Homo sapiens: one gene and its partner. Changing the gene in region 1 together with any one later gene gives a genetic interaction. Each region holds a gene or a part of one and is shown on either strand. Other genes may lie near its edges.

What was found. A genetic interaction does not mean that the proteins touch.
Region 2: changes in GOSR1 (region 1) and TRAPPC13 are lethal when combined (synthetic lethality), as found in Homo sapiens cells (one study listed by BioGRID).

The regions. Positions count from the first base shown.
Region 1 is NC_000017.11:30,480,379-30,484,133, forward strand, and holds part of GOSR1 (Golgi SNAP receptor complex member 1), read left to right. Parts: intron 1-764; coding exon 765-879; coding exon of another isoform or gene 880-885; intron 886-3,755. UniProt on the Homo sapiens protein: Involved in transport from the ER to the Golgi apparatus as well as in intra-Golgi transport. It belongs to a super-family of proteins called t-SNAREs or soluble NSF (N-ethylmaleimide-sensitive factor) attachment protein receptor.
Region 2 is NC_000005.10:65,634,946-65,638,700, forward strand, and holds part of TRAPPC13 (trafficking protein particle complex subunit 13), read left to right. Parts: intron 1-355; coding exon 356-424; intron 425-998; coding exon 999-1,098; intron 1,099-2,750; coding exon 2,751-2,835; intron 2,836-3,755.

The DNA of each region.
Region 1 (3,755 bases):
CTTTGGAACATAAAAAGCAAAATCCCTTTCAAAAGAATAATGGCTTCTTTCTTATAACATTAACTGGTAAGTTGATAATGCTGGTCATAAACCATATTTTTAGTTCCTTTGTGATTTGTATTATCTTCTTGTTTTTCTCTGAATTGCAGAATTTTAGTTATTGCTATACAAATAGTTTCAGGAAGGATAGAACAACATTTGTTTTCTAGCCATCTTTGGAGTAAAGCTGCGAAGTTGCATCTACCATTACTATTTCCCTTCTTGCCCCCTCTGAAGTTTATAAGTGACTAATCTGCTTTGCTGGGCAAGTCCTTGGTTTCCTTCTTTTAAGACTTTTATTTTCCTTTTTTTGAGACATAGTTTTGTTCTTGTTACCCAGGCTGGAGTACGATGGCGCAATCTTGGCTCACCGCAACCTCTGCCTCCTGCGTTCAAGCGATTCTCCTGCCTCAGCCTTCCGAGTAGCTGGGATTACAGGCGTGCGCCACCACACCTGGCTAATTTTCTATTTTTAGTAGAGATAGGGTTTCTCCATGTTGATCAGGCTGGTCTCAAACTCCCGACCTCAGGTGATCCGCCCACCTTGGCCTCCCAAAGTGGTGGGATTACAGGCGTGCACCACCGTGCCCAGCCAACACTTTTCTTTATGGGGGTAACAAGATCAGTATATGATCATTTTCATAGTTTGTTTTCTTTAGAATGGTGCTGTGATTTTTGTGTCTACTTTTTATGTCTAATTATTTGTTGTTATAATTTTGTTAAAGATCTCAGGAAACAGGCTCGACAGCTGGAAAATGAACTTGACCTGAAACTAGTTTCCTTCAGCAAACTATGTACAAGTTACAGTCATAGCAGTACCCGAGATGGAAGACGCGACAGGTATAGGTACTACCAGATTCTGTCTCCTATGCCTTAACTGTGTTTTTAAAGCATTAAAAAATAAACTAAAATATATAACTTCTGTAAGTTGGTCTATTGGTGAATTTTTGGTGTTTTGTTTTGCCATTCATTGTTTTATTTTTTAGTGACTTATTAAAATTCTTCTGAATTCTCGAGACTAGCATTTATTTGGAATCCTTAGGCAAAGATTGTTACAGTGTCAGAAGAAACCTGCTAGAACTTCAGAATAAGTTTGTATCAAAAATATAAGTGTCTAATTCAGCCAGTGTAGGGAAAAGGTGGCTGATTTGCCCGTGTGGCATGTATTTCTTGTGTTTTTCAATTGCTAAATGGACCTGTGGATCTACCCAGGTGCCAGGTATACATACTGCTTTTCTGGTGTTTATTGTATTAGAGGGTATCTAATGCACTGTGTATCCTTGTTATTAATTATCAAAGCTATCTTTAATTTTGGTACTTTTTTGGGAAACTAGTGTATTACCATATTAAATGTATGGAAAATACATTCTTATCTTTGAAGCTTATGCTCTCTGTAAGTCATCCACTTGTTTCAAGAAAATATTGGGAGTAGCCAGGCACAGTAGATGACGCGTGTAATCCCGGGACTTTAGGAGGTTGAGGCGGATGGATCACTTGAGCCCAGGAGTTCAAGACTAGCCTGGGCAACATGGTGAAACCCTGTCTCTAAAAAAAATAGAAATAAAAAAAAATTTTTTAATTAGGCAATATTTAAGACAGTTACAAAGAATAATATCATGAACCCCCATGACCCTATCTCCCATTTTTAAAAAATGATAATTACTCATTCCACTGAAGCCCCTTATGGCACCCCACTTTCTCCCACCCCATAATCCACATATATTCTTACTGCATGTTTATATTCCTGAGCAATTCATAGTATTCTATTATGTTATATAGTATATATATAATATAGTTATTCTACAACTTTTTCTTTAACATTTTTGAGATTCAGCTATGGATTCATTTAACTCTGGTATATTCATTTGTAATTCATATGTAGTATTTTATGACTATCACAGTTTAACCATTTGATGATGGCCATTGTTTCTAATTTTTGCTAATTAATAATAATTTTGATAGCTGACATAAGAGTGTTCATTATATGTTAGGTAAGAGCTTTCTATAAATGCTGCTGGGAACATTTTTACGCAGAATGTTTCTATATACCTAGCGGTGAAATTGCTGGTAGCAGAGTTGTTGTTAATCCACACTTATTTTACATACTTTTTCAAAGATTAGAAGTGAGTAGGATATTTGTCAGCTAATAAAAACAATGAAATCTGAGCTTAGATTTGAATCTAGATCTATCTCCAGAGCCCACACTCTAAACCCTACTATAGTGTATACATTTGAACAAAAAGCTGATTTCAACACTATAGCCAAATTACTATTTCTTTTTCATAAGGACTCCTTGGTTGTAAAGGCAGCAAGGCCAACATTGACTCTAGGATCTAAAAATAAATTACTAACACATCAAATAGATTGCATTGCTTTGGGCTTGGCTTTATTTAGCAAGTAAAGAGAATGAAGAATGTTCTTTCTATGCATTTTCTATGTTCTGTGTGCTTCATGAACTAATACTTTTGTTATTCCTCTAAAGGAAAAACTATCTTGAAAACATTTCCCAAGAAATTCTACCACAAACTGAAACTGGCTTTGTAGAATTACTTCAGCCTAACTCCCCTTCTAAATAAAAACCTAAGGCCATGAGGATCAGGATTTGATGTCTATTCTAAAGTGTCTTGTTTGATGCCCAGGTTGGAAGCATGTCACTATGAGTCAACTAAGCAATAACTAGAATATTATTTATTCCAGGCATCTTTCTTTCTTTTTTTTTTTTTTTTTAACTTTCTGTATTTTGAGAACTTCAAGGTCTATGAATCATTACCCACCTATAAGATGAATTAAATTTAACTGAATCCCAGTATTGTGAAGAATTAGTGTTTGGCCATTTCCCTTTACTCTTACACTGTCCTGATGAATATATGAATACAATGAGTATAGAATAACCAGTAGTAGAGATTGCTCTCGTGTTCATTCATTTATTCAGCAGAAGTTTAATGAGCATCTACTATGTGCCAGGCTGTATACTAGGTGCTAGGCATATATCTATGAATAAGACAGAGCAGTTTTTTCCTTCCTTCATGAAGCTTTAATTCTATTGGCATATTGTTCTTTTTCATATATCTGGTAGAGGAGGATTTATATTAGTAGTCTACAGAGCATTTATTTAATACTTTTCATTTGCCACACCCAGGCACTGTCACAGGGTAGCACAAAGTCTTCAGTAAGATTGGAGACTATAGTCATTGCCTGGGCATTTATCTGTGTCCAGTATAACTCTGATCTGTATTGAGCTGCTCATCAGATGCTAATACATACCTAACCTGATGAAGGTTAGTGGTGTTTTGGAAAAGGCAAAAGAAACACTGAGGACAGGTGGGTTTAGAATTTGAATCTGTCAAACCTAAGTTTCACTTGTAAAAAGATAGATTTTTGACTATTCAGATTTGAAAAGGCAATTTAACACAATTCTACAAAACAAAAGGATGATTGCATACTGTAAGTGAAAATGGAGAAGATTAGTACCAAAGCATGCAGGACATGGCTGTATATATTGGATTTAAAGCCAGTTCCTGAGTATTCGTTAGCTAGTTATCCAATCTGTGGATCATTTAAACCTCAATCTTATTTCCTCTTGGTAAGAGTCAAGGAAAGAAGAGAGAATGTAATGTTGAGGTTGAAGGAACCATAATTCCTTTGGGGTAAAAATGTAAAAGATCGTTTCTCACAGACCCTATATAACATAATCCATAATTCATTTTATGGCTCCT
Region 2 (3,755 bases), on another chromosome or scaffold:
TGATATTGTTTATGGTGAAATCACTTAGAATTTTTTTAAAGCCTTATGCTCCTAATACTCTTTAAGCTTTAAAAATTATATTTTCCAGTTTTTCTATAATGAATGCATATTGTATTTACATTTAATTTTTATAATTCATAGGTTGTAAATAAATGGTGCTTATTTTGTAACATTACAATTCTTAATAAATCACTGATGTGTGATAACCTTAGGAAGTATGTAGTATTATATTTAGGAAGTATTTAGGTTATATTTTATGTTAGTATAAAATGGATGAATGTCATACACTAGACTTGAGAATATTAACCCTAAGCAGTATTAATGTTTTGTTTTCTTTTACTTTTTTACTTCACAGTGATGCGGCTGACTAAGCCTACTTTATTCACCAATATCCCAGTAACATGTGAAGAGAAAGACTTACCTGGTATGGCACATGCTTTCCTCTATTTGCACCTAGGGAAAGGTTGAAACCTGAATTGCCTGCATTACCTTGGACTAAGCCTAGCCCTGTAAATTTTATGCTAACCATTTGCTGGATTCTTTGTTGCCTATTTTTGTATCATGTGAAAGGTGGCCATCTGAGTAACAGGCCTTACTTATACTCTACAAGTCCAAATTATGTTGATATCCTATGGCAGTATGAGACAGTTTAAGATACATTCATATTCATAATACTATTAAAATTGCCTTTATCCTCAAATGTTGCATCAATGTATGTATTAGCATTCCCTTTTTTTTTTAAGAATTATTGGGGCTTTCTCTAGTATATTTTCTATCTCATGACGTACATTTTTCTTTGTTTCTAAAGTTTCCATTCCCTGTGAGATCAGAATTTTTTTGACATGCTTTGTTGTATTAAAATCTAGAAGTTAGACTTTTTAAATATCATCTTTGTCAAGAGGTTGTTTTTTAAAATATCTCTCCCAGCTATTTCTTTATATAAGTAAAAGTTATTTAAAGGGTAGATGTTAGAATTTTATGTTTTTCTCTTCATTCAGGAGATCTCTTTAACCAGCTGATGAGAGATGATCCTTCAACCGTTAATGGTGCAGAAGTTTTAATGTTGGGAGAAATGCTGACTTTACCACAGAATTTTGGGTAAGAATGACATATTCACATAAGAAACCTTGTAAAGCCATTACAAATTATGTTTTCAAAACAGAACCATGGGATGGGGAAATGCTCATGATACATTTACCTTTTTTTTTTTTTTTCTGAGATGGAGTCTCGCTCTATTGCCCAGGCTGGAGTACAGTGGTGCCATTTGAGCTCAGTGCAACCTCCACCTCCTGGGTTCAAGCAATTCTCGTGCCTCAGCCTTCCGAGTAGCTGGGATTACAGGCGTGCGCACCGCTCTGGCTAATTTTTGTGTTTTTATTGGAGACCGTGTTTTGCTATGTTAGCCAGGCTGACCTTGAACTCCTGACATCAGGTGATCCACCCGCCTCAGCCTCCCAAAGTGCTTGGATTGCAGGCATGAGCCACCACGCCTAGGACATGATACATTTGAGGGGCAAAAATATTATTAAAAAATCATACTATGTGATTATGGCTTTCTGTTATTAAAAAAAAAAGATATATACCAAAATAAAATGTTAATAGTGGTTCCTAGCATAATAGAATTTTAACTTTCTTCTTTAGATCTTACTATATTTTGTAATGGCCACATAGTCTTTTAACTACTAATGTAAACATCTTTTTCAGAAGCCAGTCTTTGTTTTTTTGCATCATAGTCCTCTCCCAAAATGAGTTATCAGACTTGTCAGCTAATTAGGAACTCTAAATTTATTTCTTCTGTTATCCTTAGCTGTATTATTATTCTAGATTAATAATAAGGTAGAAGCCCCTGGTTCCACTCTGTTTGCAACAGACAGAATTTGAGACAAAAAGAAATTTTACAGATTGTTTTTATAGTTTTACAGAATGTGGTCATTGACTAGTGTCTTGAAAAACTGGGAAATATATTCATGTAAAAAGTATAAAACTAAAATAAAACCACTGGTGATTTTTATTCAAGTAACCTAGGAAATAAAATAAATTGGTAAAAATACCCCAATATCAGTAACTTAGATCTCTTCTAGATTCAGGGAATAAGTTATTTCAAGAATGGAAACTTGGCTCTCTCTAACCTATTCAGATACAAATCCTAAGACTTTAGCATAGGTCTAATTTCAATGAGTCTTATCTCTAGTGAGGTTGGCATTTTGTACAGTAGTCAAAGGCCAAGATATATCATGTTCTATAGATTACGTCTGTATTTTGAATTGCACTAGGTAATGAATGAGTGGCCTAGTGTGAACAAAGGAATGTTGAAGCAGTATTTCACCAGATTTCTATCCTTCAGTAAATGTTTCTCCATTTGAAGTTCTTAGTGATTCTCAAACAGATTATTTAATGTAAAACCTGATGGGCACAGTGGCTCACGCCTGTAATCCCAGCACTTTGAGAGACTGAGGCGGGCGGATCATGAGATCAGGAGATCGAGACCATCATGGCTAACATGGTGAAACCCCGTCTCTACTAAAAATACAAAAAATTAGCTAGGCGTGGTGGTGGGTGCCTGTAGTCTCAGCTACTCGGGAGGCTGAGGCAGGAGAATGGGGTGAACATGGGAGGCGGAGTTTGCAGTGAGCCTAGATCGTGCCACTGCACTCCAGCCTGGGTGACAGAGCGAGACTCTGTCTCAAAAAAAAAAAAAAAGAAAAAAAACCTGAATGGATTTCTGCCTAAATACTTATTTTATTTTACAGGAATATATTTTTGGGAGAGACCTTTTCCAGTTATATCAGCGTTCATAATGATAGCAATCAAGTTGTAAAAGACATATTAGTAAAAGTAAGTAACATTCTTACTTGGGATGTATTTTAGTCTTTAACAAAGGTTTTTTTTTAGGCCGGGCATGGTGGCTCATGCCTGTAATCCTAGCACTTTAGGAGGCTGAAGCAGGTGGATCACCTGAGGTCAGGAGTTCAAGACCAGCCTGGCCAACATGGTGAAACCCCATCTCTACTAAAAATACAAAAATTAGCCAGGTGTGGTGGTGCACACCTGTAGTCCCAGCTACTCGGGAGGCTAAGGCAGGAGAGGCTAAGGCTTGAACCCGGGAGGTGAAGGTTGCAGTGAGCCAAGATCACGCCACTGCACTCCAGCCTGGGTGACAGAGTTAGACTCCATCTCAAAAAAAAAAAAAAGAAAAAAAGGTTTTTTTATATCTATTATGTTTTTGGCACTTCATTAAATGCACGTTTGATACAATAATTTTTAATTGTCATTAACAAGCACTAATGAATGCCTACAGTTATAAAGTATTATGTTAGGCATGAAAACATTTTTCCTATTCCACAAGATTTGTGATTGCTTGGGTGAGAAAATGTACTAGTCAAAGCTAAATAGCAGTTTAGTATTTGTTAATGTATGTCATTAACATGGAAGATGAAAGATCACTGGAGATTATGTCAATCTGGAAGGTTTCTTGGGGGAGAGGGAATGCGAAGAGGATCTTGAAAGAATGGGAGGATACAGATAACAAGGCAAGGGAGACATGGTAATCAGAGGCAGAGACATAGTGGTACACATGTGTTCTTTTAACAGTGAACAAATTTCACTTGGTAAGAGTCCGTAAGGTGGTACAGAGGAATAGTAGCTGTATTAGTCCATTTTCATGCTGCTGATAAAGTCATACCCAAGACTGGGCAATTTACCAAAGAAAGAGGTTTAATGGACTTATAGTTCCACGTAGCTGGGGACAATCATGG